Linked DNA regions of Homo sapiens: regions 1 and 3 are each linked to region 2. Evidence: fine-mapped expression QTL. A gene starts in region 2. Each other region holds a variant in brackets. All regions are shown on one strand. Distances are between the middles of the regions.

What was found. PIP is the estimated chance that this variant, and not a neighbour inherited with it, causes the effect. A credible set is the group of variants that fine-mapping cannot tell apart.
Region 1: its variant is the best candidate, but not a certain one, in a credible set for the expression of MRE11 in Th2 cells (Schmiedel 2018, PIP 0.58).
Region 3: its variant is the best candidate, but not a certain one, in a credible set for the expression of MRE11 in lymphoblastoid cells (GENCORD, PIP 0.77).

The regions. Positions count from the first base shown.
Region 1 is chr11:94,468,212-94,470,711 of GRCh38, forward strand. MRE11 (MRE11 double strand break repair nuclease) reads right to left here. Exons shown (of 20, transcript NM_005591.4): 9 at 2,260-2,431. Among named protein-coding and RNA genes, the nearest start is that of MIR548L, 2.9 kb to the left of the region's middle. The variant C/A (reference allele first, on the strand shown) is at 1,295.
Region 2 is chr11:94,492,458-94,495,257 of GRCh38, forward strand. It overlaps MRE11 (MRE11 double strand break repair nuclease), which reads right to left and starts at 1,387. Exons shown (of 20, transcript NM_005591.4): 1 at 1,334-1,387; 2 at 325-449. The coding sequence starts at 344. ANKRD49 (ankyrin repeat domain 49) reads left to right here and starts at 1,527. Exons shown (of 3, transcript NM_017704.3): 1 at 1,527-1,578. RefSeq lists an enhancer at 1,737-1,826.
Region 3 is chr11:94,325,750-94,328,606 of GRCh38, forward strand. No RefSeq gene overlaps it. Among named protein-coding and RNA genes, the nearest start is that of IZUMO1R, 23 kb to the left of the region's middle. The variant C/T (reference allele first, on the strand shown) is at 1,219.

The sequences.
Region 1 (2,500 bases), 24 kb before region 2:
TGCAGTCATATGATCCATGGGAGACTCACCAGAAGATTTAGGGATCAATAAGCAAGGACTTTAGATTATTTATCTTGGAAGAGTTCAAGGTAAAAGAAAATAAGACTGATGTTTTCAAATATGTGGAGTTGTCTCATACTCTGAGAGGATAAGATTATAACATCTTAGACTTGAAAGAGTTCTGAAGACAAAAGCACTTGTTCTATATTGTTCTTAAGGGTAAAACCAAGTTACAAGGAGACAGCACTAGATTATTTTCATAAATGGCTGTGTGCACAGTGATTAGATATCTCCAGATGGCCAACTTCATAGCTGAACAATTCTAGTTCTTAGAAAGTTCTTGTATTGGAACAAAAACTGCCTTCCTATAACTTGGTCCTGATCTCAAGAACAATACAGAACAAGTGTTTTTGTCCTCAGATTTCTTTCACATCTAAGACTTTATAATCTTGTCCTTTAAACTGTCTGTAACAATGAAGTCCAAAAGAGTTTTCTGCAATAATTTTTTCTATGTGCATATTCAATATGGTTGCCAAAACCATATGTGGATATAGAGTACTTGAAATGTGGCTAGTACAAGTGAGAAACTGAATTTTAAATTTAAATGTAAATAATTAAATGTAAACGCCACATGTGCTAGTGAATACATATCAGACAGCACAGAGAAAATCTATAAGAATATGATCTCCTAGGTCAATTATTTCAATCCAACAAGCATTTATAGAGCATCATTTTGCCAGGTACTAGGTCAAGTGCTGAGACAGAAAAGTAAGATATGGGTCCTGTCCTCAAAGAGTTCAGAAGACACTCACATGCTTATAAAAAATAATATAACTTAACTAAGTACAATAACAGAAATGTACATAAAATACAGAGATAACAGAAAGTTATGTGCACACCTGGTGTTTAAAATGAACCTCTATTACTTTGTGTCACCAGCGTCTACTTTCCTCTCTGGATTCATGTCACCAAAGCCCACAGGATTTAGGTGAAGTTCATACAGTAGACCTCAACCAGAGGTGACTTTGCTTCTCTAAGGACATTTGGCAAGGTCTGTAAACATTTTTGATCATCACGACCAGTTAGAAGGGGTACTACTGGCATCTAGTGGGTACAAACCAGGGAGAATACTGCTAAACATCCCAGAGTGCACAGAACTGCCTCCCACAACAAAGAATTATTAGTACAAAATGTCAACTAAGCCAAAGTTGAAAAACCCAGGTCTGACTCCAGGGAAGGGCACATGACTCAGGCCTGGATCAATCAATGCAAAAGCAATTAATGCATTTTCTAT[C/A]TCTTTGGCTTGAGAGATTGGATTTAGGGATGCCAGAATCTTAATCTATGTTTGAGTTTCTAGAGTCAATCATCTTGAAACAAGCGTACACTTTTGGTTACGTGAGCTACACACTGCTCAAAAAGCTGTGACACTGAATGAGTCACCTTATCTAAGGTTCAGTTCCTCTAAACTATAGATGGTAGAAACTACTCACATATAGTATTGTTGGCTAGATTAAATGCTGTCAACAGTGCACATCACATACAGTAAATCAGTAAGTATCACTGGTCATAATTATTATCATTGTTACTATGTTACCTGATTTTTCATGAAAAGAAAACATAGTAGGACAGCTGACACAGAGTTAAGAACTGAGCGTCAGCAAGTGATGCTAATTAAGCTGTCAAACCACATATTATTAAATGCATTAATCCACCCAACCTTAGTAGTGGCTGAAATTTTCTAGAGATTTAGGGGTGGCAATGTGCATAGAGAGGGAGGTTTGGGACTTACATTGCAGCAATAGGGTGGATAGCAAACACATTTTTCACATTTCATTTGGGGTAGCTTTCAGGGTGAAAGGGACGCCTAATACAGATTATTAGAAGCTAAGGCTTTTCTCACACACGATAGTCTCCCATTCCTCAATCAAAGTTACTGCCTGCTTTCATAAATAAAATGAACAAATCATCAAATCAGGATTAAAAAGGAGAAAAGATTATGTATTATGTTTTTGAAAAGGAAGAAAGAAACTAGGAGAGAGATTTAATTTTTTTTAACATCCAGTATTCCTCTCTCTCAATGACTTAAAAAAAAAAATCTTGGACACAATTAAACACATTCACTGAAGAACAGTGTCCTTACAGGCTTCATGAGAATGTAATCAACATAAAGGCTTCCCTCTACTCTATTAAATTACTTAATTGAAGGTGAATAATTCTTCAACTAAAGTAGATCTCATTGACTTTATCAAAAAGAATTACCTTCTCCAAACAGAAGCTTTGTATGGCTTGGGTTACTTTAGGATTATCTGGGTTAAAAATGTCTGGATGATTAGCTAGAACAATATCCTCCATGAAAAACTGCCGCACTGTGTGAAGAGGAATTTTATGCATATTCATCTTCCTCCCTTTAATACGCAGCAAACCAACATGTCTGAAGTGGAGAGAAATGAACACCGAGTCACAGTGTAAATTTCCTCAGGGTGATGTGCAAACGAAAGCT
Region 2 (2,800 bases):
GCATTGACTAATAAGAATTTGTCAGGAAAATTCAAGAATATTTATCACTTCAATAATTTAAGATGAAGCCTAAGAACATAAACAATACTATATCAATATATCAAATTACTGCAAGACTCCAATCTATAGCTGCATATTAGCTTCCAGTTAACAAACAGATAAATATTTAAAACATTCCAAATACCCTTTTTGATGACTAATATTTCTGTTCATAAACAGGTTCCTTATTTACTGCTTATTAAATAAGTTTTCTTTTACTGTGATCACAGTTGACGAGCTTTAGAAACCCCAAATAACAAGGGATTCCAGAAGTCAGGTGCTTACAGTGCATCTGCAGTACTCATTTTTATGGTCAGTCAAGCTCCTCTGGGACCAGGTTCTTCTCCAAGAACCCCTGGGTACTGTACTCAAATGTCAGAAAATGCACTCGATTCCAAATTCTAGAAATTCTAAAAACAAAATTACATCATAAAACACATTTTTTAAAAGCCTGCACGTATTTAACCAACATGATTTACGCTGCACAAGGTACAGACGTCTTAATTAGACTGGCAAATTTAGAAGTCTCATTTTCATCTAAGCACCCACTATACTTTTTTTTAATGAACTGAGCATAGAAAATAATATATCTCCAGTGTACATCCTGTTTCCTAGTTTCACCAAGATGATTAAACTCCTATTTTCCTTTCCCGTGCTCTTATGGGAAATTAATGTATGCTAAATAAATGGGCAGAAAGGGTCACATACGGTTCTGGTTCAACACACAAACAACTCTAGATGTGCAGATATTTTTAAGTTGCACGCATAGGTTACTCTGGAGAACAGAGGCAATCCTGTATTTCCTATTCAAACCCCACGATTTTTTTTAAAGGACCTGGCTAGTTTGGAAAAGGGAACGGGCCCGCGTTTAAAGCGAGTGTAAATAAACAAACACGTGGTCTGCGGAGGAACACCTTTAAGCACCAGCAGGATGACTGAAAATAGCCAGGTTTGGGGAAGAGTGGCTGCCACCGCGAGACAACCCCCACCACATCTGGAGCTCCAGATTCCGTCGGGATTCCAAGCCTCAACACGCCCTCACCGCAGGGAACCTCGGAATCAGAACGCTGAGCCCGCCAGGACCCCTCCCCTGCCCACTCGGCCCGCTCTTCCCGAGGTTCCAGTTAACTCTGGGCTTCCGCCTGGGAACCTGCAGAAACAGGAGACGAATGCGATTCCTAAATTACCCCACTGCTGGACTCTTCGAAGCCCCACAATCGCGACCCAAGGCTGTCTTCTTTTCGGGAAGAAAGGGCAGGATCCGTGAAAAGAAAACAACACGGTCTGAACTTGCCTCTGAGAACCCGCAGGGCCGTAAACCTGAATTCCGCGGGAGAGAACGGCGTCCGTTTCTCTCGCGACACTTCATGGATAACGTAGATGCTTCAAGTCCAGTTCGGCTCTCATTGGCTACCGCACGCAGTGAGGGGGCGGGGAAAGTAGCGGCGAGGCCCCGCCCTCACGCAGGAGCCAATCCTGAGCAGGCTAGGAGACGAACCCGGAAGTGAGATGCAAGGCGGCGATTTTCCCTTCTGTCAGGTGGGTTGTTATTCCCTGTCCCGGACCTCGCTTTTTGATGGACCGGCGCCATCTAAGAACTCCTGAGCCCGTGGGGGTGGGTAGCCTGTGGACACAGGCCGAGCCCTGCAGGTCAGGCCGCTTCGTGGTCCCCAGGTAGGACCGAAGCCGCTTCTCCGCTCTTGGCTGTTTGGAAGGCCGCAGGCGGAGCTCACGGGCCTGTGAGCTCCCGGCTGGTGGCAGAGTGCCGGAGCTGGATCCCCTCTCCCTCCCTCCCAGTCGCCAGACCCTCTACAGGTGTCGCCCCTAGGTCCTTGAGTTCAGCACATCTGCACTGCTTTGTGCTGAGAGCAGTAAGATGTATAGTGCAGCGAAAAATAATGTAGAACTTTTGAATTAGAACGTCTGCCCTTTCAGTTCCATTGAAGGGTCCTTGATCTAGGGCAAGTTGTTTTAATCTATCTGAACCTCCTTCACCAGTAAGGTTTATAGCCCCGCCTATCACTGAGTTGTTTGTAAGGAGTTGACATAGTTCGGATCTCTCTCAAAATAGGATATGCCCTTTAAGTTAGGAAACATACCCTGACATTCCTGATGGAATATCAGGAATATCATCATCAAGTCATCAGTTTTGTTTCTTAACTGTAAGTCGGGTAGATGCGCCTAGGCTTGGCTTTTTAAACTAAATATACCAGTAAAATTTTGTACATAATTTTTTGTATCTGGATCTGTAAACTCAAAATTTATATAAAGGGAGTTTTTATTGAAAGGAAAAGCATGTTGGGGGAGAGGGTAAGATCTGTGGTATAAGGTTACTATATTTGATATAATTACAAGTGAACTTTTATTTATTAGCATCTGTTAAGTGTTTAATGAATTGATGTATGGTCATTTTTGTGTTGCAAGGTTCAGGAATTAGTTTGAGAATCAAAGAAAAAGTGGAAGCTCCAGGAGAATTAATAAAACACAGAGCAATTCTGATTGGATATCTCTGATTCCAAGGGTGTCTCTGATTGGGTGACTGAAAAGCCGGATTGGCCTTAGGAATACTTTAGTAAAATTCTTACATTTTACAATAAAGTAACAGGACCAGAAAAGTTACTGGACATGAGTAATACATTTAAACTTGAGTTTAGTGCTATTGCCACTAGTAATAAAGTTTAATACCACATTAAGATTGTATACTGTTAAACTTGTGAGATTAGGTATCAAGAAATCAGTATCTTGGGGTTATGCCTAACTC
Region 3 (2,857 bases), 170 kb before region 2:
CTAGCATAAGAGGTGGAGAAGGGAGAGGATGACTGGTCATTAGCCATCTGGGTTGCTGCTCCTGTTTCTGTAGGAACATCCAGAGCAGTGTGGCCCCCAGCAAGGTTGGTCTTCCTCAGGTGGCCAGCAGGAGGCAGCAGAACACATGGGAGTTGGGGAAGAGGGTGCTGTGGCAATGAAGATCGCTAACATGAGAACAAGCAGAGGCTATTTATTCAGAGGTGGTTATAACAAGGGGGTCAGCCACCCTCACTTATCCTATGACAGAGGCTCAAGGCAGGCAAAAGAGAGTGGGAAAACTTTATAGTTAAAAAAAAAGTTGGTGGAACAGCTTTAAGTATGCTCTGATTGTAATTTGTCAGTGTGGGAAGCTTTAGGCAGGATAATTAGAAGTGGAGCACCTTACATGATTAATTTGGGGAGCATTCTATGTTTGGGCCTCAGTTGGAAGTGAGGGCAAAAAATAAGGAAGCTGGCAGCCATTGACCAAGTCCTCCCCATTCTGTGAAAGTTGCTACAAAGGTTATGGTTTGGCTTCCCGGCCAGGTTGCTGCAGAGTTCTATTGTAATATACAGTCTGCCATTGTCCACTTATATATTCAGTCCGTTTGTATACTCTGTGCTTCAACATCATACTTGGTCTGCCCTTTCTGCAGCTACCCATGGGTGATCAATAGGAGGCTGACTTTGTGTCCTCCCATAGAGGACTCCCATCATCAACTTTGTATTAGCTATCCATTGCTACGTGTCTTAGTACATTTTGTGCTATTATTACAGAATACATGAGACTAGGTAATTTAAAACAAACAGAAATTTATTGGCTCACACTTTTGGAGGGTAGCAAATCCAATATCAATGTGCAGACATCTTGCAAGGGTCTTCTTGCTGTGTCATATGATGGCAGGAAGGGAGGAAGAATGAAAGAAAGAATGTGCGTAAAGGGGGCCAAGCTCTCCCTTTTATAACAAACCCACTCCCACAATAATGGCACTAATCCATTCACTTCACCTTCTTGGCCTAATCACTTTTCATCAGGTTCCACCTCCCAACACTGTTGAATTGGGAATCAAGTTTCTAACACCTGCTTTTTGGGGGACACATAAGAACCAAAGCACTGTGTAACAAATTACCCCAAAAGTTAGTGTCTTAAAATATTTATTATCACACATTTTCTATGGCCCAGAAATTCAGGTATGGTTTAGCAGATACTCTGGCTCA[C/T]GATCTCTAACAAGGACACAGTCAAAGTATCATCTGGTTGTGTAGTCATCTTAAAGCTCAACTGGGGAAGGATCCATTTCCAAGCTCACTCACAACTCTGCTGTTCACATGGTTGTTGGCAGAATTTAGTTTTTTGTGGGCTATTGGACCAAGAGCCTCAGTTCCTCACTGGCTGTTGGCCAGAGGCCACTTTCAATTCCTTTTAACATGTGTTTCTCCACAGAACAGCTCATAATATAGCAGCTCATTTCATAAGAGTCAGCAAACCGAGAAGAGCCAGGGAAAGAGAATCAAAACAGACTCTGCAATCAAAACAGAAATGATAGCCTTTTGGAACCTAGTCTCAGAAAAGACATTGAATCGCTTTTGCCTTATATTCTATTCATTAGAAGCAAAGTATTAGGTCTATCCCAGAAAGATCAACTCTGGGTGTGGTGGTGGGGGGTGGGACGGGGATTATAGAAGGGAATGAACACCAGGAATGGGGATCATTGGGGGCTGTCTTGAAGGTTGTCTAATCACAAAACTCTGTCAAATAGAGGCATAACCTGGAGATATTGTGGCTTTGGTTCCAGACCACCACAATAAAGTGAATATCACAATAAAGTGAGTCACACAAATTTGTTGGCTTACCAGAACACATTAAAGTTTACACTATATTGAGGTCTACTAAGTGAGTGATAGCATTCTGTCTAAAAAAGTGTACATACCTTAATTTTAAAATACTTTATAACTAAAAAATGCTGACAATCATCTGAACCTTCAGCAAGTTGTGATCTTTTTGCTGGTGGAGAGTTTTGCCTCAATGTTGAACACTTTGCTTTGGATTAGGCTTTGGCTTAAGGGAATGTTGTGGCTGGTTTGATTTTTTTATCCAAGTTATTAACACTTTCTCCATACCAGCAAGAAGGCTGTTTGGCTTTCTTATCATTCATGCGTTCACTGGAGCAGCACTTTTAATTTCCCTCAAGGACTTTTCCTTTGAATTCACAATTTGGCTAACTGGTGCAAGAAGCCTAGGTTTCAGCCTATCTCAGCTTTCAACATGCCTTCCTTATTAAGCTATTCATTTCTAGCTTTTGATTTAAAGTGGGAGACATGTCCTTCTCACATATAAAATATATTCATTCCATCCCAGTAGCCACAAAAGCCTTAACCTGTTCAGTACCAACTCAAAAGTCTATAAACTAGAGTCTCATCTAAATATCACCTAAATCAATGTGGGTGAGATTCAGGGTATGATTCACCCTGAGGTAAATTGCTCTCCAACTGTGAACCTGTAAATTCAAATAACTTATGTACTTCCAAATACAATGATGGGATAGGCATAGGATAGACATTCCCACTTCAAAAAGGAGAAATAGTAAGGAAGAAAGGGATAATGGGTTCCAAGTAAGTCTGAAACACTACAGGGCAAAAACATTTAATCTTAAGGCTCCAGAATAATCTTTAATTCAATGTCCTACCTTCCAGACACACTGGGGTGAGGGTTAGGCCCTGAAGGCTCCAGGGTTTTGCTAAGCGCATCCCATACAGCAACTGTCATGCATTGGAGTCACATGCTTGCAGCTGTCCCAGGTTGGAGCTACATGTTGGTGGCTCTACCAGCCTGGGGTTTAGGAAGTGGACCTGCCTTCAT